Homo sapiens: one gene and its partners. The protein of the gene in region 3 interacts with the protein of the main gene of each other region in a biochemical or structural test. Each region holds a gene or a part of one and is shown on either strand. Other genes may lie near its edges.

Evidence for each region.
Region 1: of the proteins of ATXN1 (region 3) and PML, one has a biochemical effect on the other in vitro, tested with the Homo sapiens proteins (one study listed by BioGRID).
Region 2: of the proteins of ATXN1 (region 3) and DZIP3, one has a biochemical effect on the other in vitro, tested with the Homo sapiens proteins (one study listed by BioGRID).
Region 4: the proteins of ATXN1 (region 3) and COIL form a complex in vitro, tested with the Homo sapiens proteins (2 studies listed by BioGRID).

Annotation. Positions count from the first base shown.
Region 1 is NC_000015.10:74,039,709-74,046,740, forward strand, and holds part of PML (protein PML), read left to right. Parts: intron 1-3,280; coding exon 3,281-3,431; coding exon of another isoform or gene 3,432-3,472; exon of another isoform or gene 3,473-3,630; intron 3,631-4,512; coding exon 4,513-5,300; 3' UTR 5,301-7,032.
Region 2 is NC_000003.12:108,683,703-108,690,734, forward strand, and holds part of DZIP3 (E3 ubiquitin-protein ligase DZIP3), read left to right. Parts: intron 1-513; coding exon 514-639; intron 640-2,725; coding exon of another isoform or gene 2,726-2,742; coding exon 2,743-2,882; intron 2,883-4,273; coding exon 4,274-4,394; intron 4,395-4,890; coding exon 4,891-5,034; intron 5,035-5,120; coding exon 5,121-5,222; intron 5,223-7,032. UniProt on the Homo sapiens protein: E3 Ubiquitin ligase proteins mediate ubiquitination and subsequent proteasomal degradation of target proteins.
Region 3 is NC_000006.12:16,298,612-16,303,492, reverse strand, and holds the end of ATXN1 (ataxin-1), read left to right. Parts: 3' UTR 1-4,381; downstream 4,382-4,881. UniProt on the Homo sapiens protein: Chromatin-binding factor that repress Notch signaling in the absence of Notch intracellular domain by acting as a CBF1 corepressor. Binds to the HEY promoter and might assist, along with NCOR2, RBPJ-mediated repression. Binds RNA in vitro.
Region 4 is NC_000017.11:56,958,038-56,965,656, forward strand, and holds the start of COIL (coilin), read right to left. Parts: upstream 3,014-7,619; 5' UTR 2,983-3,013; coding exon 2,738-2,982; intron 1-2,737. UniProt on the Homo sapiens protein: Component of nuclear coiled bodies, also known as Cajal bodies or CBs, which are involved in the modification and assembly of nucleoplasmic snRNPs.

The DNA of each region.
Region 1 (7,032 bases), on a different chromosome or scaffold from region 3:
CTATGAATGCCTAACCAAAGTCAAGAACCACTGAATCGGGGGATTCATTGCATGTCTGTGGTAGAGGAATGCTGCTCATTTGTTTATAGATGTGGCAGTCTTGAATGCAGGTGACATTTTCATACCAGGGTGTAATACCGCAGAGGAGGGGAGAGGCTGGATCTTCCCTGATGTACCTCCTGGACTTTTGGAGTGTGATTACAATGCCAATCCAGCCACTTCCTCTGAGCATGCTTGGGACGACTGTTAGACCTGCTGTGTTGAGTTAGAATGCACTTGACCTGCTCAGGCCGTGAAATCTATGAGGAAGGGGAGTGAGATGGATGTAGCTCATGAGCCAGATTGCAGGTGTATCCAAGTTGCATGTATATCCTGAAAAAATCCTGGCTCTCACGAGGCTCAGCCTGAACACAGTTTTGCATTCAAAGAAACAATGTCCATTAACCAAGTATAATAAAGAAATAAATCCCAGTATTTACTTGCATCTTTTGAAAGAACATTAAAGGGAATCCAGCTCATAACCCCAGCAGCACTTCTTCAGTCCTTCTTCCCCTTTTCTTTGGCGCCTGGCATCTCTCACTGCATAGCAAAGCTTTCCCCCTTGATTCCCGGTCCTCACACGCAGGCTCAAGGCTCTGTTTCCCATCTTCTTTCTTCTGTCCCCCTTCCTTTTCTCTTCCAAGCAAATCTAAGTCTTTTCCAGTGACTGTCCCTCTCTATGCTCCCCCGACACCCAGTTATCCTAATTTGCGGAATAAGGCCAAGGTGTGGGGCCTGGGGGCAGAATGGGAGAGTCTCCCCTAGTGAGCAGGGAGGGGAGTATGTTCTGCACCAGGCCACTATGTCTGATGGCCCTGCTGGCAAACCTGAGTCTTTCAGAAAGTCTTGTTTAAATGCGTCAGCACTCCCCAGCTGTGATGCTGGAGTTTAAGGCGGAGCAGGGGAGAATTCTGGGTTTACAGCTGGCTGGAGTTCCAGTGAGACCAGCTCCATGGGTGGCCATACTTTATGGAAGTCCCCAAGGGCAAGAGGAATTTTGGAGGAAGTGAGTCAGGGCTGAAAGGTCCAGCCTCTCCTCCATTAACAAGCTTGGTGGAAAGGGGGTGTCCTTTTATTAAAGGAGACAGTAGAGGTTTCTTAGAGAAGGCAGCTCGAGTAAGTTTAGGACAAAGGACATTTCCCTGGCCCCGGGACAATGGAAGGCTCTAAAAACGAGGTTCTAGTGGCTGCCATAAATGACCCTGCTGTAACGATGGGAGGGGTGGCCTAAAGAGACAGTACTGTGGCTCTCCAGGGAGCTCTCCTCTTGGAAGAGCAGATCTGAAGGCGGGAAGACTGGTTCTAAGGCCGAGGACATTGCCCCGAGCTTTGTGGAGGCACTCAGGAACACAAAGGGGCATTTCCAGTTGGGTTTGGAGCAGGAAGAAGAACGAAAAAGAGAAAGTCCTGTGTGCCATGTCAGTGGGTGGCAGCATGGACTCAGCCTCAGCTATTGGCACCAAGGATCTGAACCAGGGAGGACCCAGAAGGGGAGCCCAGCCCCTCCACCAGCTTGTGGGAGAGCGCTGCTGCCCAGTGAAGCCTGGAGAGAGGAAACAACTGGATTCTCCCAAAGCGGGAGAAGGTGGAGTCTCCAGCCACCCAGCTACAAGCTAGGAAGACGCCTTGTAGAAGGCTCCTTACAGGGAGGAAACCGAGTTGGAAAGGCGAGACAGCAGTGTGGGCTCACCCGGAGCAAGACGTGTGAAATCAGCTTTTGACAGCGTGGCTGAATGAGGATCTGGAGATGCGAGGCGCTGGGCAGACTCTCTGACTAGATCCCTGGATATGAAGAGGCAAAGCCAGCTCTAGATGGATTCATAGTGAGTGTCTGCTTCTGACAATAACTGGCAGAAAGCTGATGAGCCTGGAGCAGGGCTGTGAAATGCAAATCCAGTGAAATCCAGCCACTCCTACAAAAACCCACCACATCTTAGGTTACTTGTGGGTGGAAACGCTTTTTCTCTCAGTTGAAGCTTGGTTGGAAGCAGATGTTTCACTTGGGCATTGGAAGGGTCTGGGGAAATGTGCTGCCTCCTAGGCCAGGGACATTAGCCAGAGGCCAGAATTAACTGAGGCTTTAGCACCAGGTGACACCAACTTCATTGAGAAGCCAGCGGCAGTCCATAAAGAGGAAAAACCCAAGGCCTGCCCTGGACTCTGTCCCAGCCATGCTCCCAATTGGCCCTGTGATCCTGTCCATGTCTCTTCCTTGCTGGTCTCTGGCTAACGTCCACAGGTGGCATTCATGGGAGGTTCCAAGTTGGTCATCAAAGACTAAACATCTGGGCTTGGCAGCTGAGCAGATGATAAGCAATTAACTCTGTATTACCATCAGAGGCTCCACCTCCCTCTGTAGTCCCAGTCCCTTGGGAAAATCTCAGAGCTGGAGCCCTTCCCTCATCCTCTGGCTCCCCACCCCATGGCTTCTCGAACAGTGTTCCCACCAGGACCTTGGGACAGGAGAGAACGCCTCACCTGAAGGACTCCCAAAACTCAGGTTTCTCTAAGCTGCTGGGGCAGATGCCAAGAGCCTCCACTGCTCTCTCACTGCCAAGGACCTGGGTGTCCACCTAGATGTGGCCTTCAGGAGGCCAAGCAGTCCTTCCCCTCGCCTTTGTGTAGGACACTGGCACCTCGGCTGACTTCGGGGACAAGAAAAGGCAGGCTCCCGACCCCTTCCAAAGAATCATCTGGGGTTCAAGATGAGGCTTCTTTCTCCCGTCCCAAGTTTTGGTGTTTCTTCTGAGTCTGCTCAGAAAGATGAAATTAGGAGCAGACATCTCAGGTCCTGCCTGCCATAGCAGATGGCTCCTTCCCTGAGCCTCCATAAGCAGCACAGCACACTCATGCACACACCCACTGGCATTTTCTCTCACACTTTCATACACTTGTGTCAACGCAGGTTCACAGCTCACACTTAACTGTGCATGCACACACAGATTTAGCACTTGGATTCATTCCCACACATGCACGTTCACAACCTGTGTGTGTCACCCTTCCTCCCCTACTCATGAGGGTGTATGCCCTGGTTCATACATGTAACCCTCACATGTGACACACCCAGTTCACACCCATTCATGCACACATACCTTCTCTTGTGCACACGTCCCCTTTCCCAGTGGTACACCCTCCTTCATGTGCACGCAGATGCTCCCAGCTATACCAGCTTGCTAGTGTTCTGCACAGGTGCTTGCCTTGGCCCTCTGAATCCCTGACGCTTGGTTTTTCTGTGTTGCAGTCCTCCCGAGAGCTGGATGACAGCAGCAGTGAGTCCAGTGACCTCCAGCTGGAAGGCCCCAGCACCCTCAGGGTCCTGGACGAGAACCTTGCTGACCCCCAAGCAGAAGACAGACCTCTGGTTTTCTTTGACCTCAAGATTGACAATGAAAGTGGGTTCTCCTGGGGCTACCCCCACCCCTTTCTAATTTAGTCTCTGAGTCCCAAAAAGAAGTGCAGGCAGAGCCATCTGCCAGGCCCAGGAGAGCTCTGAGCTCTGGCCAACAACTGCAGCCAGGCTGGGCAGAGCACTCCGGCTCACCTGGGCTCCTGGCGTGTCATTTGCTGGCTTGAATAAAGATGTCCGCCTTATCCAGTGCCTGAGTGTGCGAGAGAGGCAGATGCCTCCACAAGTGCACCTCTGACCAGTTCTTCTCTCAGACAGAGAGCCTGGGGAACACACTCCTAGACAGAAACACAATGCGTGAGCTCATTGCCGTGAGCCCTGTCATCCAAGTAAGGCCTCTGGCTGTGCTACACGTTTCTGAGTAGAGGGCCAATCCCACAGGTGGCTGCACAGGGCTGCCCACAGATCCAAGGTCACAGAGGGATCAGACCCCTTATCCTGGAAGCCCCTCTACTTCCTCCAGTGCTTGCCCTGGCTCTGCAAATGCCCCTCCTTGAGCCAGAGCCCCAGGCCCTACCCTGTGGCATGGACTCAACATTGGGGCTAGCCCAGCCAGACAGAAACAGCAAGTGTTTTCATGGTACAGAAAAGTCATTTGCAGACCTCAGTGGGAGGCTCTTGGCCTTGCTCTGAGTGGAGTGCTTTCTATGTCCCAGGGCTCTGACTGGGCTGGGGTCCTTGAGGGGATTGGAGGAAGGAGCATGGGATGGAGAGCTAAGTTCAAGCAGCCTGGGATCTCTAGTATAGGTGGCTGAGGCTGATAGAAGACAGGAGGGACCTGTATCCATGGGGTTTGGCCAACTCTGGGGCCGGTAGTGGAGGAGGGGAGAGCTGGATCCCCAGCTGGTGAACAAAGTGTTTGGAGGGCAGCCGAGCCTCCCCTTCTGACTGCTATCCCACCACAACCAGGATCAGAGCTGCATTTGGGGGCTGATGTGTGGCTACTGCCAGCAGACCCCAAGGTGAGGTCTCTAGATGGTGAGTCAGCAGCCCTAGAGGACCCCCTGCTCCCACCCCAGAGCTCTCTGTGACCCTGGGTCCTCACCCTGCCCTTCTCTCCTGCCCAGCCCAGAAGATTAGCCAGCTGGCTGCGGTGAACCGGGAAAGCAAGTTCCGCGTGGTCATCCAGCCTGAAGCCTTCTTCAGCATCTACTCCAAGGCCGTGTCCCTGGAGGTGGGGCTGCAGCACTTCCTCAGCTTTCTGAGCTCCATGCGCCGCCCTATCTTGGCCTGCTACAAGCTGTGGGGGCCTGGCCTCCCAAACTTCTTCCGGGCCCTGGAGGACATTAACAGGCTGTGGGAATTCCAGGAGGCCATCTCGGGCTTCCTGGCTGCCCTGCCTCTCATCCGGGAGCGTGTGCCCGGGGCCAGCAGCTTCAAACTCAAGAACCTGGCCCAGACCTACCTGGCGAGAAACATGAGCGAGCGCAGCGCCATGGCTGCCGTGCTGGCCATGCGTGACCTGTGCCGCCTCCTCGAGGTCTCCCCGGGCCCCCAGCTGGCCCAGCATGTCTACCCCTTCAGTAGCCTGCAGTGCTTTGCCTCCCTGCAGCCCCTGGTGCAGGCAGCTGTGCTGCCCCGGGCTGAGGCCCGCCTCCTGGCCCTACACAACGTGAGCTTCATGGAGCTGCTGAGTGCACACCGCCGTGACCGGCAGGGGGGCCTGAAGAAGTACAGCCGCTATCTAAGCCTGCAGACCACCACGTTGCCCCCTGCCCAGCCTGCTTTCAACCTGCAGGCTCTGGGCACCTACTTTGAAGGCCTGTTGGAGGGTCCGGCGCTGGCACGGGCAGAAGGAGTCTCCACCCCACTTGCTGGCCGTGGCTTGGCAGAGAGGGCCTCCCAGCAGAGCTGAGAGGAGGGGGTGACCAGCTTGGAGTCTCTGGTGGGCAGAGAGGGATGGGGTCCCTGAGCCAGGCCCCACCCATCACAGCATTCCCAGGTCCTGGTACCCAGCCCTCAGTTGTCATTTGGTTCAGAATCAGTTCCCTTTCTCTGGGACCAAATTTCCCTTCTCTAAACATCCTACAGAGAAGGTTCCAAAGCTGAGCACCCATCACCCTAGGTGTGCACCAGACTCCTATTAGCCCCTCCTTCCAGGAGCTAGAACCAGGGAGGTCCTGAGTGAGGAAGGCATGACCTCTGGGCTCTCTAGGTGGCCCTGGTCTTGCCCCATCCATCCCACCTGCCACTACCTTGGGTGTCCTTACAGCTCTGCCCTGACCCCAGCCCCTGCCCCTGGACACCTGCTGACAGCTCCCACACAGAACAGTCTGAGGTGATGCTGGCTACAGCCCTGGCAGCCCATGGCAACTCAAAGTGCCTTCCAAACCAAACTGCCCCTCATGAGGTTAGGGTCCCCCACCCTCCACCTGCCCAGAGGCCAACTCTGTTCCCTTCTCCTTTCATCCCAGAGGGGCCTCATCAGCAAAGACAGAAACTGATGTTCCATGCATGTCCCTGCTTCCAAAGCCTGACCTTCCAAAGCTTGCTTCCTTCCTCCTGGCTGCACAGACACCTCTGCTTGGCCACAGCTTTGCTCTTTGGTCCTCAGGCCACCAGACCCCTCACAGCATGGCCCTTGGCTCTTCCTGCACTGCCCTCACCCTCAGCCGTCCCAAGGAGTGCCCAGCACTACTCAGCATGTAGTCCAGGACCTGCGGCATCAGCATCCCCTGGGAGCTTCTTAGAAATGCAGACCTGTGGGCTCTACCACAGGCCTCTGGAATCAGAATCTTCAGGGTGGGGCCCAGCAGTCTGTGTTTTAACAGGTTCTCCCGGTGATGCTGGTGCATGCTCAAGTTTGAGAACCGCTGCTCTCATAGACTGCTCCTCCAAGGGGAAGCAGTGTGGAACAGCAGAGAAAGTCCCGTCCCTATCTCTGACTGTGCAGTGAGTGTGGCCTAGGAACAGGTCCCTTCCTAAGCTCTAGTGTCCCCATCTGTAAAATGGGCTGATTGGCCTCCACGGTCAGAGCGGCCATCTGGCTGTGCCATCCTGCATTTTTAGGAATGGAAAGCAGGCCTCTGAGGCAGTGGACAGGAAGACTTCTCATCCTTGAATTCTAGCTCCCATTCCAAACTGTTAGTCCCCAACCTTGTGGTCACATCAGAGGTCAACAGCAGAACAGAGGCAGGTCAGGGTTGTCCGCTCTGATTAGCAGAACGACAGCCCCTTCCTCCTCCTCCCTCCTTCCCATCCCTACTCATTAGCTCCCTGCTCCTGGGATGCTTCCCAAGCAGCCCAGGCCTCTAGCCTCCATGGCTGATGACCTCAGCTTTCACACTGGTGAAGTCTGTGTACCCATACTGCAGCCCCATCCCATGGGGCCCCTGAAGACCCACTGAGGAATTCCGTAGGGTCTTGTTCCCACGACCGGAGTGCTGGCTCTCACAGTGAATTTTGATGCATTTAAAATAAGATTCTGATGCCAGACTGTTAAAACAGGCGCTGGTTCTGAAGCACCGATGGAAACAGATTGATGCAGATGGAAGGAGGAAGGGAGACTGGGCCCACTGATTTCCAGCCCCACCATGTGTGCTGTTTTCAGATGTGATTGAGGGGTGTTCTGCCCTGCCTCCACTGTC
Region 2 (7,032 bases), on a different chromosome or scaffold from region 3:
CCTTGGAGCTAAACATTAAGTCAAAATTTCATCAAGTATTACCTCCAATATAAAATATTTTCTATGGATAACTTTGGGTTGTTCTGTGAAATTTCTGAGTATCAATATTGCCCACCAACATAGATAACACTTCCTGAGAATCTCCTTTGCATAGTTCTATGTGATTACAGTTGGGAGGGAACCTTAATGATTACCTTATCCAACCCTCTCATTTTATAGATTAGGAAATTGGTTTCCAAGGTTATTCAGCTACGTAGAGAGAAATGTGACTAGAAGCTATTTCTTTTCTGTCTTTGTCAATGCTGTTTTCAATATATCTCATTGCCCTTTGTTTTTCCAATATTCATATGTTTCATTTTCTGACATACATTGTTTCTAATGTGCTTTGTATCTTGAGTTCAAATGAGTGTTCCCCCCGCCATATTGCTGTATGAATTTAGATGATTGCCTAAATAAATATATAAATATGTGGGGGGGGGTGTTGTTTATTATTGTTTATATTTTCTATTTTAGATGCAGCAGTTCTTAGGAAGACCTCTTGTGAAAGAATCTTTCTTTAGACCCATACTTACTGTTCCTCAAATGCCTGCAGTTTGCCCGGGAGTCGTCTCTGCAACTGGCCAACCTAGAGCCCCCCTGGTAAAAGCTTTCTTGGTGGAATAGATGTTAATTAGTTTTTTTATTACTCTAGTGGGCTTCCTGAATGAGTATCTTCATTTTGTTCATTCATTTGATATGATAATGATGGGGGTGGTGGTGATAATTGAATGAATACTTCCTGTGAAGCACTGTGCTCAGGGTGTTACATATATTATTTAACTGATACTAGCTTCGTTTTGGGATACAAAGATAAATATGTTTTTATACTAGAGAATCCTTAAAATTATAGTATTGCTTCTGAAATAGGCAACAATGCAGGGTAAATTGACATTTTTAATAGATTTTTTTGGCATGGTTGTTGGGAAGATTGAAAAGCAAAGAAGCCAAGTCACAACAAACTATATTATGGCACAAAGCTAAAGAAAAATTTTATTTCCACACACGTACACACACATAGTAGGACAGTATTTCAAGTGTATCTATAAACAGACTATAAATAGCATCACCTTGAAACATAAACTGTAAAGTTATAAATCTTCCCAGCTACAAATAGCCAGATAAACTTTATCCAAACCTGAAGAAGGAACATATAAATTTGAAATTACCAGAATTATCAGTTGTAATCTTGGTGAAGGTTTTTTATTAAAGGAAAATCTTCCAAAAGAATGATGTTAGATGTAATTAATGAAAATTCTCTAATCTTGATTTTCCTATAAGTATAATTAGGTGCAATTAATTGTTTCTTTTCTTTTCTGCTCCCCATATATTGCTAACAGTTTCCTTTTGAAATACATGGTCAGGTGGACTCTGCTTATTATTGTCGAGGCTACCTGTCTATAAACAAATCTGTATATAGTCCTTAATATGTTAAATAAGTAACACATCTTTTTACTACCATGATATTACAGTGTTAACTCTTGCAATTTGCTTGCCCACCATTCTATAAGAAACTATGATAAAATTTTATTAAAAACATTAAAATACCTTAATCTCCTAATAAGATTACTTTCTGATTCCTGGGGTAAAGCTTGACATAGAAGCAAATTCAGATTTCTGGGAAATATTCTGCTTCCCCTCACTTCTTAGGCTCTGTACAAATTATTACAGTGACTGTTAGTAGTTGCTAGTTTTTCATGAATAATAACCTAATATTTGAAAATAACCCATTAGAGCCTTACATAAAAGGTGCAAGTGGTCATAATTATCTTAGTAATCAGATGAGCACTCCAAAAATACTCTGTTATTATATTATTTAATTAGAATCTTAAGAAGGAACTACCATAAAATATGGAGAAAAGTGATGGTTTCATGGCTGCATGTCACTACAACTTCTGCACCACTTTTGTCTACAACATTGATGAGACATTGGGCAGAGCAGTTCTAGTAGTATTCCCATCTTTATTTGGTTGTTTGAAAAATGTAACTTTACTTTCTCGTTATAAAGGTATATATGCTAATCACAAAATGCGAATAATATAGAAATGTAAGCACATTAGAAAACAAAGTTACTGTGCAATTGATCCCTAAGAAATAATCACTTCTTACGCATTGTAATTTACAGACCTTTCTCCGTGTATACATATGCATTTAAAATTTTTTAATGTAAAAGGAAGTCGTATCATAAATACTGTGCCACAGACTTTTTAAAAAATCATATTTCATGCATATCTCTTATGCCCAGACATACAGTTCTATTTTTAAAAACTTGATTAGATGTGCCATAATTTATTCATTTCTCTATAGATGTAAGGTTTTTTCAGTTTTCACTGTTAAAAGAGAAACAGCAGTAAACAGCCTTCATGTTTTGCTGTACATGTATGTAATTACTGAAGCAAGCATGTCCTATTTTAAAAATAAGTTTAAATATTTATAAACAGTTAGAAATATTGTTTGTATTAGTTAAGAGAAAAACCCTAAAAGGGATTGTGTATGCCAGTATTCTTCTTCATTCTACCCTTTTCTTTGTCCTATTTTTAAAATAAGTTTAAAATAGTTACAAACAATTAGAAATATTAAGAGAAAAACTGTAAAAATTGAATGTGTATGCCAGTACGCTTCTTCATTGTACCCATTTTCTGAGGTATAGGAATGTCACTTCTTAATAATTAAACCTGCTGGGCTATAGCTCTCTGCCTCTTACAGATGACTGGCATAGCCTGGGCTCTGCCAGCGCCTGTGGGAGACGCTGTGCCTCCCAGTGCAGGTCTGCGGAGTGATCCCTCCATCATGAATTGGGAGAGAATTACAGACAGGCTGAAAACTGCCTTTCCACAGCAAACCAGGTACCTTAGTTTTTATTTATTGGTGGGTACAGATCATATTCTCCAGTTTTCATAGCCATAATTGTGGCAATGAAACATTTCAGAGAAACATAACAAACACAAAAAAAGTACAGATGTTTCCTTACCTTGACCTTGGTAAGGAAAAAGAAATTTACCAAGAAGAGACAGTGTTCAATGGTGAACCTCTTCATTAAAAAGTTACTTGTCTTAAATCATGAGAGAATAACTTTAAATTTAGGTATGCTCATTTACTAAAAGTACAACTAGATGTAAACTTACCCAATTTTAATGGCACTAACTGCCATTATTATCTTAACCTATCTCCAAAGTGAATTTTAAGTTGATTGTATGCTATATAAGCCCAAACATCTTTAGGATTTAATTTCCTAATTTCCTTAATTTTGAGGGTCCTTATAGTTTCTTTGTTGGAGAACACACTAAAAATGCAAGAAATCATAACTTTACTGTGCTTTTCACAGTCTACCTTTAGTAGAAAGATATTTAATTATATTCCTACACAAATGAAGTTTCTTTTATCTCAACTCATATCTAAGGAAATAATTCTACTTTTCACAAGTATTTTTATTTCAATACAAACATTTAATATATATACTGGCACACTTCATTATTAAATTATAATTTTATAAATTTCATAATAGTGAATAGATAATAAAATAGAACTCTAGTACAGTTGTTATAAATATGTATAAAAACATTATAAATCAAAGGTAGTTGCATAAGGCTGATGACATGACACTTCATTTGGGAAACAAAAATATTTCATTCTACTTTGTCCCATCAAAACTGTAGATGCAGGCTTTGGATCAATGGATCTTGGGAATTAAAAAGGAACATATCAATTAAAATAATTGTGGGTTCTTTCATTATATAATTAATGTGATTTTTAACCCTTGCTTTCCTGTTCTGTTTAATCTTTGTTTTCTGAGTTTTACGAAAGTACAACTATTAACACTGATAAAGAAGAGAGAAACCAATAGCAACATAGTTAAAAATAAATATGTTATCCTGAGCAAGAAACCACTTGAGAGATGGTATAAAGAACCCAATGCATAAATAAGTGGATAAACTTAATTTTCACCTAGTGAGCTCTCAAAAACGAAGTCTCTTTTTGGAAAGAAAATAAGTACTAAACTTTATCACTCATGAAAACATTAAGTATCATTAATGAACACAATTAGGAGTTTTCCTTTTGGTTTAAGATAAATGCAGATGGACCTGTGATCACTTTTTTAGATCAAAGACCTAAAGAGTCCTGTCTGTATGCTACATATCAATCATGCGATAGGATTTTATATCTCCTTTGGTGGGTACATCCTCAAAGGTACTAAGGAAAATCATTACTGCCCTTTCCTTTCCTTGATCTCTTGCAGAAAGGAACTTACAGATTTCTTACGGAAATTGAAGGATGCTTATGGAAAATCCTTGTCTGAACTGACATTTGATGAAATTGTTTGCAAGATTTCCCAGTTTATTGACCCCAAAAAGTCTCAGGTAAAATGCAAAAACAACCAAAAAACCTGTATCTCTCTGCCCTTAACTCTAGTAGTTAACTGTTTTAAATATCTCCATAACCTGTTCAGAAAATCAGTAACTTGTAATCATATTAAATCATCTATTAACAGTAAATAACAACTTCAACTTAACAAATGATATCAGAAGTCTTTTTGAAATACCTGTTACCTAATCATTCTAGAATAAAACTGACCTCCTTGAAATTTGCTCTAGTTTCTTTGAATGAGTCTAAAGAGGGAGAGATTTTCTAATTTTCTTGAAAGATTTATTTTAATTAAAAGAATGTATAGAGTTATTTTTGTTTTTACCTAGCTCTGAGTATATAAGTATTGCCACCATTTTGTTCAAGATTTCTCACAAATCTGATTATTTACCCTTTTGCTAGTTCTTACTATACCCCGTTCTGTACTAATGTTTCAGCTCTTACTGTTTTAGGATAATTCTGAAAAAATAAACATTATGTTCTTATTTTCAGAGTCAAGGAAAATCAGTGTCAAATGTTAATTGTGTTTCACCTAGTCATTCTCCATCACAGCCTGATGCTGCCCAGCCCCCAAAACCAGCCTGGAGGCCACTCACTTCACAGGGTCCTGCCACATGGGAAGGAGCCAGTAATCCAGTGAGACTGAAATTTTTGATTCTGAACACATTTAGATTTGGGAGAAAACAATGAGCTAAATTTAACATTTTCTGTATTTTCCCTAGGATGAGGAAGAGGAAGAAGAAGAGCCTTGTGTGATCTGTCATGAGAATCTGTCTCCAGAAAATCTTTCAGTTTTGCCTTGCGCTCACAAATTCCATGCTCAGGTAACACTTTAAATTTTCCCATTAATCAGCTAAATGAGATTCATACTGCCTTACTTATTATCATATACATGTATCATTATCCATTGTTGTCTCACAAGTTCCACTGGATATAACTCTGAGCTTTTGGGTACCACACAGAAACATTTATGCTTTTCCCATACATAGCCATGGATTGCATTGTGCTCTCTCAGATCTCCATCCACCCTACAGAAGAAGGGGACAATGTTGAGAGTCAGATGGTACACAGTAGGCAGTTCCTTCGAATAGAACTGGGACAAATGTCGATTGACGTGGTAGTTTAGTGGCAGAACTAGCAACAGCACCACTTGAAATTGACATGCTATAAATACCACATAGTGTCCTTTGTCCATAATTAATGACAGCCCCCTTTCATAAAGCATAAGATTTATCAGTCTCTTCAGGCTTCTATATTTGCTTTTGAAAGATACTCAGGCTTGAGTTTTGATGTTAGAAAAATGTGAGGCATGGTGGCTCACACCTGTAATCCCAGCACTTTAGGAGGCTGAGGTGGGTGGATCATGAGGTCAGGAGATCGAGACCATCCTGGCTAACACTGTGAAACCCCATCTCTACTAAAAATACAGAAACAAAATTAGCCGGGCGTGGTGGCGGGTGCCTGTAGTCCCAGCTACTCAGGAGGCTGAGGCAGGAGAATGGTGTGAACCCAGGAGGTGGTGCTTGCAGTGAGCCGAGATCGGGCCCCTGCACTCCAGCCTGGGTGATAGAGTGAGACTCCATCTCAAAAAAAGAAAAAGAAAAATATGAGGTTGGCATGTCTTTTGTTGATTCTTGGCATTTATATAGATTAAATTCTGGTGTTACTGCCACACAGTTGCTATTGGTATATAATTAATGATCCAAGTCCTCTGTTGCAGAGATGTAATTTGACACAGGAAAAGGTAGTCATAGTAAAGAAAGGCTTTTCAGGGAAGTAAATAATAGCCAGTTCAGTCAAGCCATGTTTGTAAGACATCATTTCAAAGATATGATATGTGGTACCTGGTACAGAATTATATTTTGTATTTGCTCTAATATGAAGATACATCCACAAAATGCCTAATCCCAAAAGTTTTCTAGGAAAGATCCTTAGCCATTGACTTTCCCCTTTGAAGTTTATAAGGTTCTGACAATTTAGGAAATACATGTTTAACAAAACTTATCCTACTCTTTGCCATTGCCCACAAGTAGAAAGCATATAATTCATTCAGGTCATTTTTTATGACTATAGTTAGTGGGCCTATTATATATAGTGCTTATTATTAATCCTCTCTCATCTGACCTGGCCCTCCATTATTTATATACGTAAAAATGATTTGTTTTTGGAGAGTCAGCATTCAAGCAAGTGACTTAACAGATAGTTCATAGCCGAAAATTACTGTCATTATCGCCAAAGAAAACAATCTGAGAAGTGTATTCATGATCTAGGGATTTTAACTGCAAACACCATAAGCATTTCATACCAGGTACTAGTGACTTTTGTATCATTAGTTATGACTTTTTCTGGATTATAAATGAGAACAGTATATAGTAAACCAAAGAATATAGCAAGTTTCTCCAATTTCCTTGTCAGGAAGGATTGCTAGTCATCTTGAAAATTGAGGTTGAAGGAAGCATTTCTAGTAGAATAAACTGGCTAAAAGGTATTGTGCAGTTACCACCTATTTTGTTTAGCAAACCACAGGGAAGGTGCCATGGTTGCAGCAATTGGTTTGACGATCCACAGCGTAAGGCTTTAAAGATCCACCAGAAGACATGTTGGTTGGTAACCCTGATGCATAGAGTGACAACT
Region 3 (4,881 bases):
TTTTGGCTTTTTCCTTGTTTGGTTGATCTTCCCCATTCTGGCCAGAGCAGGGCTGGAGGGAAGGAGCCAGGAGGGAGAGAGCCTCCCACCTTTCCCCTGCTGCGGATGCTGAGTGCTGGGGCGGGGAGCCTTCAGGAGCCCCGTGCGTCTGCCGCCACGTTGCAGAAAGAGCCAGCCAAGGAGACCCGGGGGAGGAACCGCAGTGTCCCCTGTCACCACACGGAATAGTGAATGTGGAGTGTGGAGAGGAAGGAGGCAGATTCATTTCTAAGACGCACTCTGGAGCCATGTAGCCTGGAGTCAACCCATTTTCCACGGTCTTTTCTGCAAGTGGGCAGGCCCCTCCTCGGGGTCTGTGTCCTTGAGACTTGGAGCCCTGCCTCTGAGCCTGGACGGGAAGTGTGGCCTGTTGTGTGTGTGCGTTCTGAGCGTGTTGGCCAGTGGCTGTGGAGGGGACCACCTGCCACCCACGGTCACCACTCCCTTGTGGCAGCTTTCTCTTCAAATAGGAAGAACGCACAGAGGGCAGGAGCCTCCTGTTTGCAGACGTTGGCGGGCCCCGAGGCTCCCAGAGCAGCCTCTGTCACCGCTTCTGTGTAGCAAACATTAACGATGACAGGGGTAGAAATTCTTCGGTGCCGTTCAGCTTACAAGGATCAGCCATGTGCCTCTGTACTATGTCCACTTTGCAATATTTACCGACAGCCGTCTTTTGTTCTTTCTTTCCTGTTTTCCATTTTTAAACTAGTAACAGCAGGCCTTTTGCGTTTACAATGGAACACAATCACCAAGAAATTAGTCAGGGCGAAAAGAAAAAAATAATACTATTAATAAGAAACCAACAAACAAGAACCTCTCTTTCTAGGGATTTCTAAATATATAAAATGACTGTTCCTTAGAATGTTTAACTTAAGAATTATTTCAGTTTGTCTGGGCCACACTGGGGCAGAGGGGGGAGGGAGGGATACAGAGATGGATGCCACTTACCTCAGATCTTTTAAAGTGGAAATCCAAATTGAATTTTCATTTGGACTTTCAGGATAATTTTCTATGTTGGTCAACTTTTCGTTTTCCCTAACTCACCCAGTTTAGTTTGGGATGATTTGATTTCTGTTGTTGTTGATCCCATTTCTAACTTGGAATTGTGAGCCTCTATGTTTTCTGTTAGGTGAGTGTGTTGGGTTTTTTCCCCCCACCAGGAAGTGGCAGCATCCCTCCTTCTCCCCTAAAGGGACTCTGCGGAACCTTTCACACCTCTTTCTCAGGGACGGGGCAGGTGTGTGTGTGGTACACTGACGTGTCCAGAAGCAGCACTTTGACTGCTCTGGAGTAGGGTTGTACAATTTCAAGGAATGTTTGGATTTCCTGCATCTTGTGGATTACTCCTTAGATACCGCATAGATTGCAATATAATGCTGCATGTTCAAGATGAACAGTAGCTCCTAGTAATCATAAAATCCACTCTTTGCACAGTTTGATCTTTACTGAAATATGTTGCCAAAATTTATTTTTGTTGTTGTAGCTCTGGATTTTGTTTTGTTTTGTTTTTTAAGGAAACGATTGACAATACCCTTTAACATCTGTGACTACTAAGGAAACCTATTTCTTTCATAGAGAGAAAAATCTCCAATGCTTTTGAAGACACTAATACCGTGCTATTTCAGATATGGGTGAGGAAGCAGAGCTCTCGGTACCGAAGGCCGGGCTTCTTGAGCTGTGTTGGTTGTCATGGCTACTGTTTCATGAACCACAAGCAGCTCAACAGACTGGTCTGTTGCCTTCTGAAACCCTTTGCACTTCAATTTGCACCAGGTGAAAACAGGGCCAGCAGACTCCATGGCCCAATTCGGTTTCTTCGGTGGTGATGTGAAAGGAGAGAATTACACTTTTTTTTTTTTTAAGTGGCGTGGAGGCCTTTGCTTCCACATTTGTTTTTAACCCAGAATTTCTGAAATAGAGAATTTAAGAACACATCAAGTAATAAATATACAGAGAATATACTTTTTTATAAAGCACATGCATCTGCTATTGTGTTGGGTTGGTTTCCTCTCTTTTCCACGGACAGTGTTGTGTTTCTGGCATAGGGAAACTCCAAACAACTTGCACACCTCTACTCCGGAGCTGAGATTTCTTTTACATAGATGACCTCGCTTCAAATACGTTACCTTACTGATGATAGGATCTTTTCTTGTAGCACTATACCTTGTGGGAATTTTTTTTTAAATGTACACCTGATTTGAGAAGCTGAAGAAAACAAAATTTTGAAGCACTCACTTTGAGGAGTACAGGTAATGTTTTAAAAAATTGCACAAAAGAAAAATGAATGTCGAAATGATTCATTCAGTGTTTGAAAGATATGGCTCTGTTGAAACAATGAGTTTCATACTTTGTTTGTAAAAAAAAAAAAGCAGAGAAGGGTTGAAAGTTACATGTTTTTTTGTATATAGAAATTTGTCATGTCTAAATGATCAGATTTGTATGGTTATGGCCTGGAAGAATTACTACGTAAAAGGCTCTTAAACTATACCTATGCTTATTGTTATTTTTGTTACATATAGCCCTCGTCTGAGGGAGGGGAACTCGGTATTCTGCGATTTGAGAATACTGTTCATTCCTATGCTGAAAGTACTTCTCTGAGCTCCCTTCTTAGTCTAAACTCTTAAGCCATTGCAACTTCTTTTTCTTCAGAGATGATGTTTGACATTTTCAGCACTTCCTGTTCCTATAAACCCAAAGAATATAATCTTGAACACGAAGTGTTTGTAACAAGGGATCCAGGCTACCAATCAAACAGGACTCATTATGGGGACAAAAAAAAAAATTATTTCACCTTCTTTCCCCCCACACCTCATTTAAATGGGGGGAGTAAAAACATGATTTCAATGTAAATGCCTCATTTTATTTTAGTTTTATTTTGATTTTTATTTAATATAAAGAGGCCAGAATAAATACGGAGCATCTTCTCAGAATAGTATTCCTGTCCAAAAATCAAGCCGGACAGTGGAAACTGGACAGCTGTGGGGATATTAAGCACCCCCACTTACAATTCTTAAATTCAGAATCTCGTCCCCTCCCTTCTCGTTGAAGGCAACTGTTCTGGTAGCTAACTTTCTCCTGTGTAATGGCGGGAGGGAACACCGGCTTCAGTTTTTCATGTCCCCATGACTTGCATACAAATGGTTCAACTGTATTAAAATTAAGTGCATTTGGCCAATAGGTAGTATCTATACAATAACAACAATCTCTAAGAATTTCCATAACTTTTCTTATCTGAAAGGACTCAAGTCTTCCACTGCAGATACATTGGAGGCTTCACCCACGTTTTCTTTCCCTTTAGTTTGTTTGCTGTCTGGATGGCCAATGAGCCTGTCTCCTTTTCTGTGGCCAATCTGAAGGCCTTCGTTGGAAGTGTTGTTTACAGTAATCCTTACCAAGATAACATACTGTCCTCCAGAATACCAAGTATTAGGTGACACTAGCTCAAGCTGTTGTCTTCAGAGCAGTTACCAAGAAGCTCGGTGCACAGGTTTTCTCTGGTTCTTACAGGAACCACCTACTCTTTCAGTTTTCTGGCCCAGGAGTGGGGTAAATCCTTTAGTTAGTGCATTTGAACTTGATACCTGTGCATTCAGTTCTGTGAATACTGCCCTTTTTGGCGGGGTTTCCTCATCTCCCCAGCCTGAACTGCTCAACTCTAAACCCAAATTAGTGTCAGCCGAAAGGAGGTTTCAAGATAGTCCTGTCAGTATTTGTGGTGACCTTCAGATTAGACAGTCTTCATTTCCAGCCAGTGGAGTCCTGGCTCCAGAGCCATCTCTGAGACTCGTACTACTGGATGTTTTAATATCAGATCATTACCCACCATATGCCTCCCACAGGCCAAGGGAAAACAGACACCAGAACTTGGGTTGAGGGCACTACCAGACTGACATGGCCAGTACAGAGGAGAACTAGGGAAGGAATGATGTTTTGCACCTTATTGAAAAGAAAATTTTAAGTGCATACATAATAGTTAAGAGCTTTTATTGTGACAGGAGAACTTTTTTCCATATGCGTGCATACTCTCTGTAATTCCAGTGTAAAATATTGTACTTGCACTAGCTTTTTTAAACAAATATTAAAAAATGGAAGAATTCATATTCTATTTTCTAATCGTGGTGTGTCTATTTGTAGGATACACTCGAGTCTGTTTATTGAATTTTATGGTCCCTTTCTTTGATGGTGCTTGCAGGTTTTCTAGGTAGAAATTATTTCATTATTATAATAAAACAATGTTTGATTCAAAATTTGAACAAAATTGTTTTAAATAAATTGTCTGTATACCAGTACAAGTTTATTGTTTCAGTATACTCGTACTAATAAAATAACAGTGCCAATTGCAGATGTGTGTCTTTGCCTTCTGTTGGGTCCTCAAGGAAGAGGCCAGGAAAAGAGTGCTAATTCCTCCTCCTTATTGACCCCCGCTCACGAGTTCTCCCTGGGTAGGTCGGAGGTAGGGAGGTGTGACATGAGGCATTGCCTTCGCTGCTAATGTTTTGGGGGGAAGAGTACGTGTGAGATGAGGTTCTAAGATAAAAGGCACACAGCCACACCTGATGTCTTGGTTTCTTCAGTTCATGTTTATGCCTCCTAGCTGAACACTGCTGTTCACAAGAGGTATACTTGTCTTTAAACATGTGGTAGCTTCATGCGCTCGTGTGGCATAATCTATACACTCCTTACAGATTTGCTCTAAACTGGTTAGTGGTCTGTAAGTGGAAAATTTATTTTTACTTCCTGTAATTCAAGCTCATTAGAAATTCAGCGAGCAGACCGGGCACAGTGGCTCACGCCCATAATCCCAACAGTTGGGGAGGCCGAGGCACAAGGCCTGCTTGAGCC
Region 4 (7,619 bases), on a different chromosome or scaffold from region 3:
TCCCAACAGAATGCTTTGGCTGGTCAGACTCATCTTTTTACCAAGTCCAGCCAGCTTTTGTCTCTATAACTGTGCTTTGATCATCCAACATTTCCCACCCATTCTTCAAGGTACTGCTCAATTCCCTAACCATTTTGTTCCATGCTGATCTCCCTTTTCTCAACCAGCTTCTGCACTTACCATATAACTTGGTCTAACTATTCAGTCTAATTGTCTGTATCACAGAAGGTAATATACAAAAGCATGAGACTCATTATTTGGGTCCCAGTCCAACAATATTGGGTACTTTGAGAATAGAGACTATGTGTTCTTCCGTAGCTCTGAAGAAAAGTGAATTTGCCAGGGAAAAACAATGATTGTGGACATAAAACAACAAAAACAAAGACGAACTTTCCAGATTCATCTTTTTCTACGGTCTGCCCATTTGCCACTGAAGCCACTAGAGAGGTATTTTTTGCCACATGCAGCTGTGCATTTGAAGCATTTAGGAAAGATTTGCCTGTCATCGTGTTGTAATTATTACTTATAACAGTTTTCATGGTTTGTTTTTGTCATTGTTAACTTCATTATGAAGAATGTAATGCCCACATGATTCATTAAAGTATAATTATAGTTAGCACAAGTTATTAACTCATTAGGCAAGAGACAGTTCAGAAAGTAAACTTAATAGGATGGGACACAATCCTTAGAATTGTAACATTTAAATAATCCTTGAATTGCAGAGAGAATAGAGACCTATTTCACAGTCAATAAAAAGGGGGAAAAAAAACTCTTTGAAATTTGGATTATTTCAAATTGTCATTTGAAACAGTTGAACATTATTCAATAAATCATAATATCCTGATTTAAAGATGCAGTTACTGTTCCAAATTAAATTCCCTGATGTTCTGAAGAAATCTTACGGAATCTGACATGCTTGAGGGTAAGGAATATTCAACGACAAAGGGCAGCAAGAGAAAATAGCCTGGTTCACAACTCTGGAATTAATTCACTGTAGCTGAAGCTTAAAGGGGGTGGGGGAAGGAAGGCTGGCACAGTGGCTTACGCCTGTAATCCCAGTGCTTTGGGGGGCTGAGGTGAGAGGACAGCTTGAGCCCAGGGATTCGAGACCAGCCTGGGCAACATGGCGAAACCCTGTCTCTACAACAAATACAAAAATTAGCCAGGCGTGGTTGCCTGGCCTGAAGTCCCAACTACTCGGGAGGCTGAGGTGGGAGGATTGCCTGTGCCCAGGAAGTCAAGGTTACAGCAAGCTATGATCGTACCACTGCACTCCAGCCTGGGCATGGGAAACCCAGTCTCTTTATTTAAAAAAGAAAAAAAAAAGTCTGAATAAATCAGTCCAAGATATGAATCCAAACTGGAATGATCAGATACCATCATCTTACTGTGGCAACTCAACCACATTTCAGCAATTCACACTACAATTGCTCCTGGATACTCATCTCATTATCATTTTTTTAACTTCCAAAAGCATATTTAAGATTATTTTGTGTTTCCCAATTTACAGCCCAAAAGGACTCAAGACACTTATTTGAGAGAATCCCAAAATGTCTGGGTGAGACACAAAATGATACGCCACCAGAAGTCTCAGGGGACACTGGGCACATGAGAACTAAGGCTGGACAACAGCAGGTTATGAAGAAAACACAACGATTCCCCTTTGTCAGCTTCCTGCACCTGACCCTGAAGGCCGCCATGGGTAAGGCCGGGTCTCCGGCACATCTGCACCATGGGCACGCAACAGAGTCGCACAGTGCCTAGCTAAGCGCGGATGTGCTAAATCAAGGCTGAAAGAAAGCCTGGCCCTGCCCTTAGGCATCAGGGATTTTCCAAGTTTGATTCTCCTGTCATCAGAAGCATCCCGGGAAGGATGCTCGTTACACTGCAGATTCCAGCCAGGCGCGGAGGCTCACGCCTGTAATCCCAGCACTTTGGGAAGCCGGGAGGATCACTTAACGTCAGGAGTTCAAGACCAGCCTGGCCAACACGGTGAAACCCCGTCTCTACTAAAAATACAAACAAACAAACAAAAAATTAGCCGGGCATGGTGGCGCCCGCCTGTAAGCCCAGCTACTCGGGAGGCTGAGGTGGGAGGATCGATTGAACCCGGGAGGTGGAGGCTGCAGTGAGCTGAGATCGCGCCACTGCACTCCAGCCTGGGTGACAGAATGAGACTCAGTCTCAAAAATAAAAATAATAGGGGCAGGATGCGGTGGTGCACGCCTGCAATCCCAGCACTTTGAGAGGCCGATGCAAGCGGATCAACTGAGGTCAGGAGTTCGAGACCACCTTGACCAATATGGTGAAACCCCATCTCTACTAAAAATACAAAAATTAGCCGGGCGTGGTGGCGGACGCCTGTAGTCCCAGCTACTCGGGAGGCTGAGGCAGGAAAATTGCTTGAACCCGGGAGGTGGAGGTTGCAGTGAACCGAGATCGCGCCACTGTACTCCAGCCTGGGTGACAAAGCAGGACTCCGTCTCAAAAAAAAAAAAATAATAATAAAAAATAATAATAAAATGCAGATTCCTGAGCCCCAAAGTTGACTACACCAATCAGGATCTCCGGGGTTCGCGAACGTGCATTTTTACAGCCCCACCCCCCTCCAACCCTCGTCCCCTTCCCCATCCCCCATCCCCTCCACTACCAGGTCTAGCGGCTTCAGGCCCGGGCGTGCGCAGGCGCGTCCCCCGCCCGCCGCCCACCCGGCCGTCCCGCTCCCTGCGCCGCGCACCTGAGGCAGTCGTTGTCTCTCACAAGGCGCGCGCTCTCGGCGGGGGGCAAGAGCCCCCCCTCCAGGTAGAGGCCTAGGAAGGCCCCAGAACTGAAGCCGAAGCGCTGGCGGATGAGACTAATGAGATCTGTGACGACTCGGCATCTGTTCAAGTCGACCAGAAGCCAGAAGGCCGTACAGTGCGGGGTAGCTGGCGGCGGGTAATCAAATTGAAGCCGTAGCCTAACCGTCTCGGAAGCTGCCATCTTGCTTGGTGCTCAACGGAAGCCGAGAGATACCACGGGGCCACCGAGAGGCGTGCTCGGGCGGCTCGCCCCCGCCGGAGCCTTTGGCGTGTGCCACCTAGTGGTGAAACCTGGCTACTACAGGCTGCGTCTAGGCGAGAACTCGGAGCGTGGTTGATTTCATTCAATTTTGTTCACGGCAGGGCTGAGGAAGGGAATAAGTGAAATGCCTTTATTACATTTCTACTGGGCGCTATGTAGGGTCTCCTAATTAAGGCAACTCTCTGGATAAATAACATTTCTCCTCAGCAGTAGTCTTCTAAGATATTTGCTCATCGACGTGAAAGATTTTTATAAAACAATCCTAACACATTTCGCTGACAAAATTTTTCATCATGATGAGTTGAAAAAGATGTAAGTCCTAGTGTGTTCTCAATGTTGAAATTTTGAAATAACACTGTTAATCATTCTTCCAAATGTATCCAGTGGAATATAAATACCTTAGCCTTTTAATACCCACCACCAAACAAAAATGTCCTTGCATTTCTCACCAGATAAATAAATCAGTATTTACATTATTTCTTCTATTTTTTGAACTAGAATTTACATTTCTCCACATAATATATATTAACTCCTTTAATTTTCATAACAAAAGTTAGGAATTATGAACTGTTATCCTTATTTAGAGGATTTAAAAAAAACAAGGTTCAGAGAGTTTAAGAAGTAACTAGAGGCCAGGAGCAGTGGCTGACGCCTGTAATCCCAGCACTTTGAGAGGCCAAGGTGGGCGGATCACTTGAGACCAGGAGTCTGAGACCACCCTGGCCAAAATGGTGAAACCCCAACTCTACTAAAAATATAAAGATTAGCCGGGTGTGGTGGCATGTGCCTATAATTCCAGCTACTCGGGAGACTGAAGCAGTAGAATCGCTTGAACCCAAGAGGTGGAGGTTGCAGTGAGTCAGGATCGTGCCACTGCACTCCAGCCTGGGCAATAGAGCAAGATTCTGTCTTAAAAAAAAAAAAAGGAGTAACTTCCCCAAGTTCACTAGACTAGTTAAGTTGTAGATACCAGGGAGTCAGTAGATGAATTGAAAACAAAATTTTTTAACTGAAAGTAAGGGTTTTTGGATTTTCTTTTTTTAGAGTCTTGCTCTGTCACCTAGGCTGGAGTGCCGTGGTGCACTCTGCCTCCCGGGTTCAAGTGACTTCCCACCTCAGCCTTCCTAGTAGCTGGAACCACAGGTGTGAGCCACCAAGCCCAGCTAATTTTTGTATTTTTTGTAGAGATAGGGTTTTTCCATGGTGGCCAGGCTGGTCTCGAATTCCTGAATTCCAGCAATCTGCCTGCCTTGGCCTCCCAAAGTGGTGGGATTACAGGCATGAGCCACCACCTCCGACTAAAATCAAGTTTATTAGAGAATTAAAGGAATAAAAGAATGACTACTCCATAGACAGAGCAGCGAGCCCATACTATAAGTATACTCAGTCAAGTATACTTATAGTTACTTCTTGACTGTATGCTAAACAAAGGATGGATTATTCATGAGTTTTCTGTATCCCTAGGAAAGGGGCAGGGATTTCCCTCAGAACTGAGGGTTACTCCCCTTTTACACCATACAGGATAACTTTTGGGCATTTCCGGCTGGGCGCAGTGGCTCACCCCTGTAATCCCAGTTTCTCCACATCCTGACTACCATTTGGCATTGTCACTATTTTTTAGTCATTCTGGTAGATGTGTTGTGGTATGTTGTGGTTTTATTTATTTGTTTGTTTGTTTTGAGGCTGGGTCTCATTATGTCTCCAGTGCTGAAGTGCAGTGGCGTGATCACAAGGCTTACTGCAGCCTTCACCTCTGAAGCTCAAATGAACCTCCCACTTCAGCCTCCTGAGTGGCTGGGACTACAGGCATGCACTGCCATGCCCTGCTAAATTTTGTAATCTTTGTAGAGACGGAGTTTTGCCACATTGCCCAGACTGGTCTCAAACTCTTGGGCTCAAGCTATCCTCCCACCTCAGCCTCCCAAATATTGGGATTACAGGCATGAGCCACCATGCCCAGCCTCTTGTGGTTTTAATTTGTATTTTCTAATGGCTAATAATGTTGAACATTTTTCCTGTGTTTATGTGCTTCTTCAGTGAAATTCTCTTCAAGTCTTTTACATCTACTCTTATTAGATTGTTAAATTTTGAGAGTTCTTTATGTATTCTAGATAGTAGTACTGAGGCAGGAAAATAGGATCTGGAGGCAGGGAACATAAGGCCAATTCACACTTCAGCTGTGACAGGAAATATCCTCTTCATTTACATAGGGCATACGAGGAGTAAATGACTTTCTAACTTTACCTCATCCTCTCCATTTACATAGGACATACACCAAGAAACCAGTGGAAACCTCTGGAGGGTATTTAAGCCCCCAAAAATTCTGTAACAGGGCCCTTGAGCCCCTATGCTCGGGCCTGCTCCCACCCTGTGGAGCGTACTTTCATTTTCAGTAAATCTCTGTTTTTGTTGCTTCATTCTTTCCTTGCTTTGTTTGTGCGTTTTGTCCAATTCTCTGTTCAAGATGCCAAGAACACCCTCCACCAGTAACAGTACTTTGTCAGATATGTGGATTGCGGATTATTTTCTTTGACTCTGGAGCTTTTTTTTTTTTTTAATCATTCTCTTAATAGGGCCTATCACAGACCAAAAGTTCTAAATTGTGATGAAGTCTGGTCGATCAATTTTTTCTTCACTGCTACCTCTGCCTCCCAGGTTCAAGTGATTCTCCTGCCTCAGCTGCCCGAGTAGCTGGGGACTACAGGCACCCGCCACCACGCCTGGCTAATTTTTGTATTTTTAGTAGAGATAGGGTTTTACCATGTTAGTCAGGCTGGTCTTGAACTCCTGACCTCCGGTGATCTGCCCACCTCGGCCTCCCAAAGAGCTGGGATTACAGGCGGGAGCCTCTGTGCCCAGCCTGTTTGTTTTTTGTTCTGTTGTCCAGGCTGGAGTGCAGTGGCAAGATCATAGCTCACTGCAGCCCCTACTTTCTGGGCTCAAGCAATCCTCCCAGCTCAGCCTCCCAAAGCAGTGGAATTACTCGTGTGAGCCATAGCCTGAGTTAATTTTTGTGTAAGAGTTATATCAGCGTTCATTTTTGTTTGTTTGCTTGCCTCTTGATGTCCAATTGCTCCAGTACTATTTGTTAATAACACTATATGTCCTCCATTTTGAATCTTTTGAATGTTTGTCAGAAATCAGTTGGGCATATTTGTGTACATCTATTTCTGGATTCTCTGTTCTGTTTCATTGATCTATATGTCTTTCCCTCCACCAACACCATACAGTCTTTTTTCTTTTCTTCTTTTCTTTTTTTATTGAGAGGGAGTCTCACTCTGTTGCCCAGTCTGGAGTGCAGTGGCGTGATCTTGGCTAACTGCAACCTCTGCCTCCCAGGTTCAAGCAGTTCTCCTGCCTCAGCCTCCCGAGTAGCTGGGACTATAGGTGCGCACCACCACGCTAGACTAGTTTTTGCATTTTTAGTAGATACAGGGTTTCATAGGTGTACACCACCATGCCAGGTTAATTTTTGCATTTTTAGTAGATATAGGGTTTCACCATGTTGGCCAGGCTGGTCTGGAACTCTTGACCCCAAGTGATCCACCCGGCCTCCCAAAGTGCTGGGATTATGGGCTTAAGCCACCGCGCCTGGCCCTTGTTTTCTTTTAGAGACAGATTGCGCCCACAGTGCAGAGCAGTGGTGTGATCATAGCTCACTGTAGCCTCAGACTCCTGGGCTCAAGTGACCCTCCCAGTTCAGCTTTTCAAGTAGCTAGGACTACCATGTCCATTAATTTTTAATTTTTTTGTAGAGATAGTGTTGGACTATGTCTTCCAGACTGATCTCAATCTCCTGGCAGGTGCCACCACGCCTGGCTAATTTTTTGTATCTTTAGTAGAGACGGGGTTTCACCATGTTGGCCAGGCTGGTCTTGAACTCCTGACCTCAAGTGATCCGCCTGCCTTGGCCTCCCAAACTGCTGAGATTACAGGCGTGAGCCACTGTATTTATGCTTTGCCCTAATTGCTTTAGCTATTCTACTTCCTTTTCCTTTTCTTATAAATTTTAAAATAATGTTGTTTGTGTATATCTCCAAAAAATCTTGCTGCGATATTGGTAGAAATTGTGCTACACCTATATATTAATTTGGTATGAATTGACATCTTTAGGATGTTGAGTCTAAATCCATGAACACATTATGTCTTTCCATTTATTCAGCTTTCTGATTTCGTTCATCAGCGTTGTGTGGTTTTAAGCATACAAATCCCATACAGGTGTTGTTAGATGTCCGGACTCCAAGTGCCAGTTCCTTCCTGGTGTTCAGCCACTGCGTTGATCCTCCACAGGGGCCTGCCATGCACTGCTCTGATGAGGCATTCCACCAGGGCAATTGCCTACCAGGGACTGCTCTCAGGATCCATGTCACTCAAGCTGGCTGGAGTCCCCCGCAGGGATGCTCCACAGGGCAGGCCTAAGCTACCTAAGGGACTGCCTCAACTGTCCGTTAATCACCTCGCTTCCCGGTCAGGGAACCAAGAAATGTAGCAGAACAAGCCACACACAAAACCCCTCAGACACCGAGTTAAAGAAGGAAGGGCTTTATTTGGCCAGG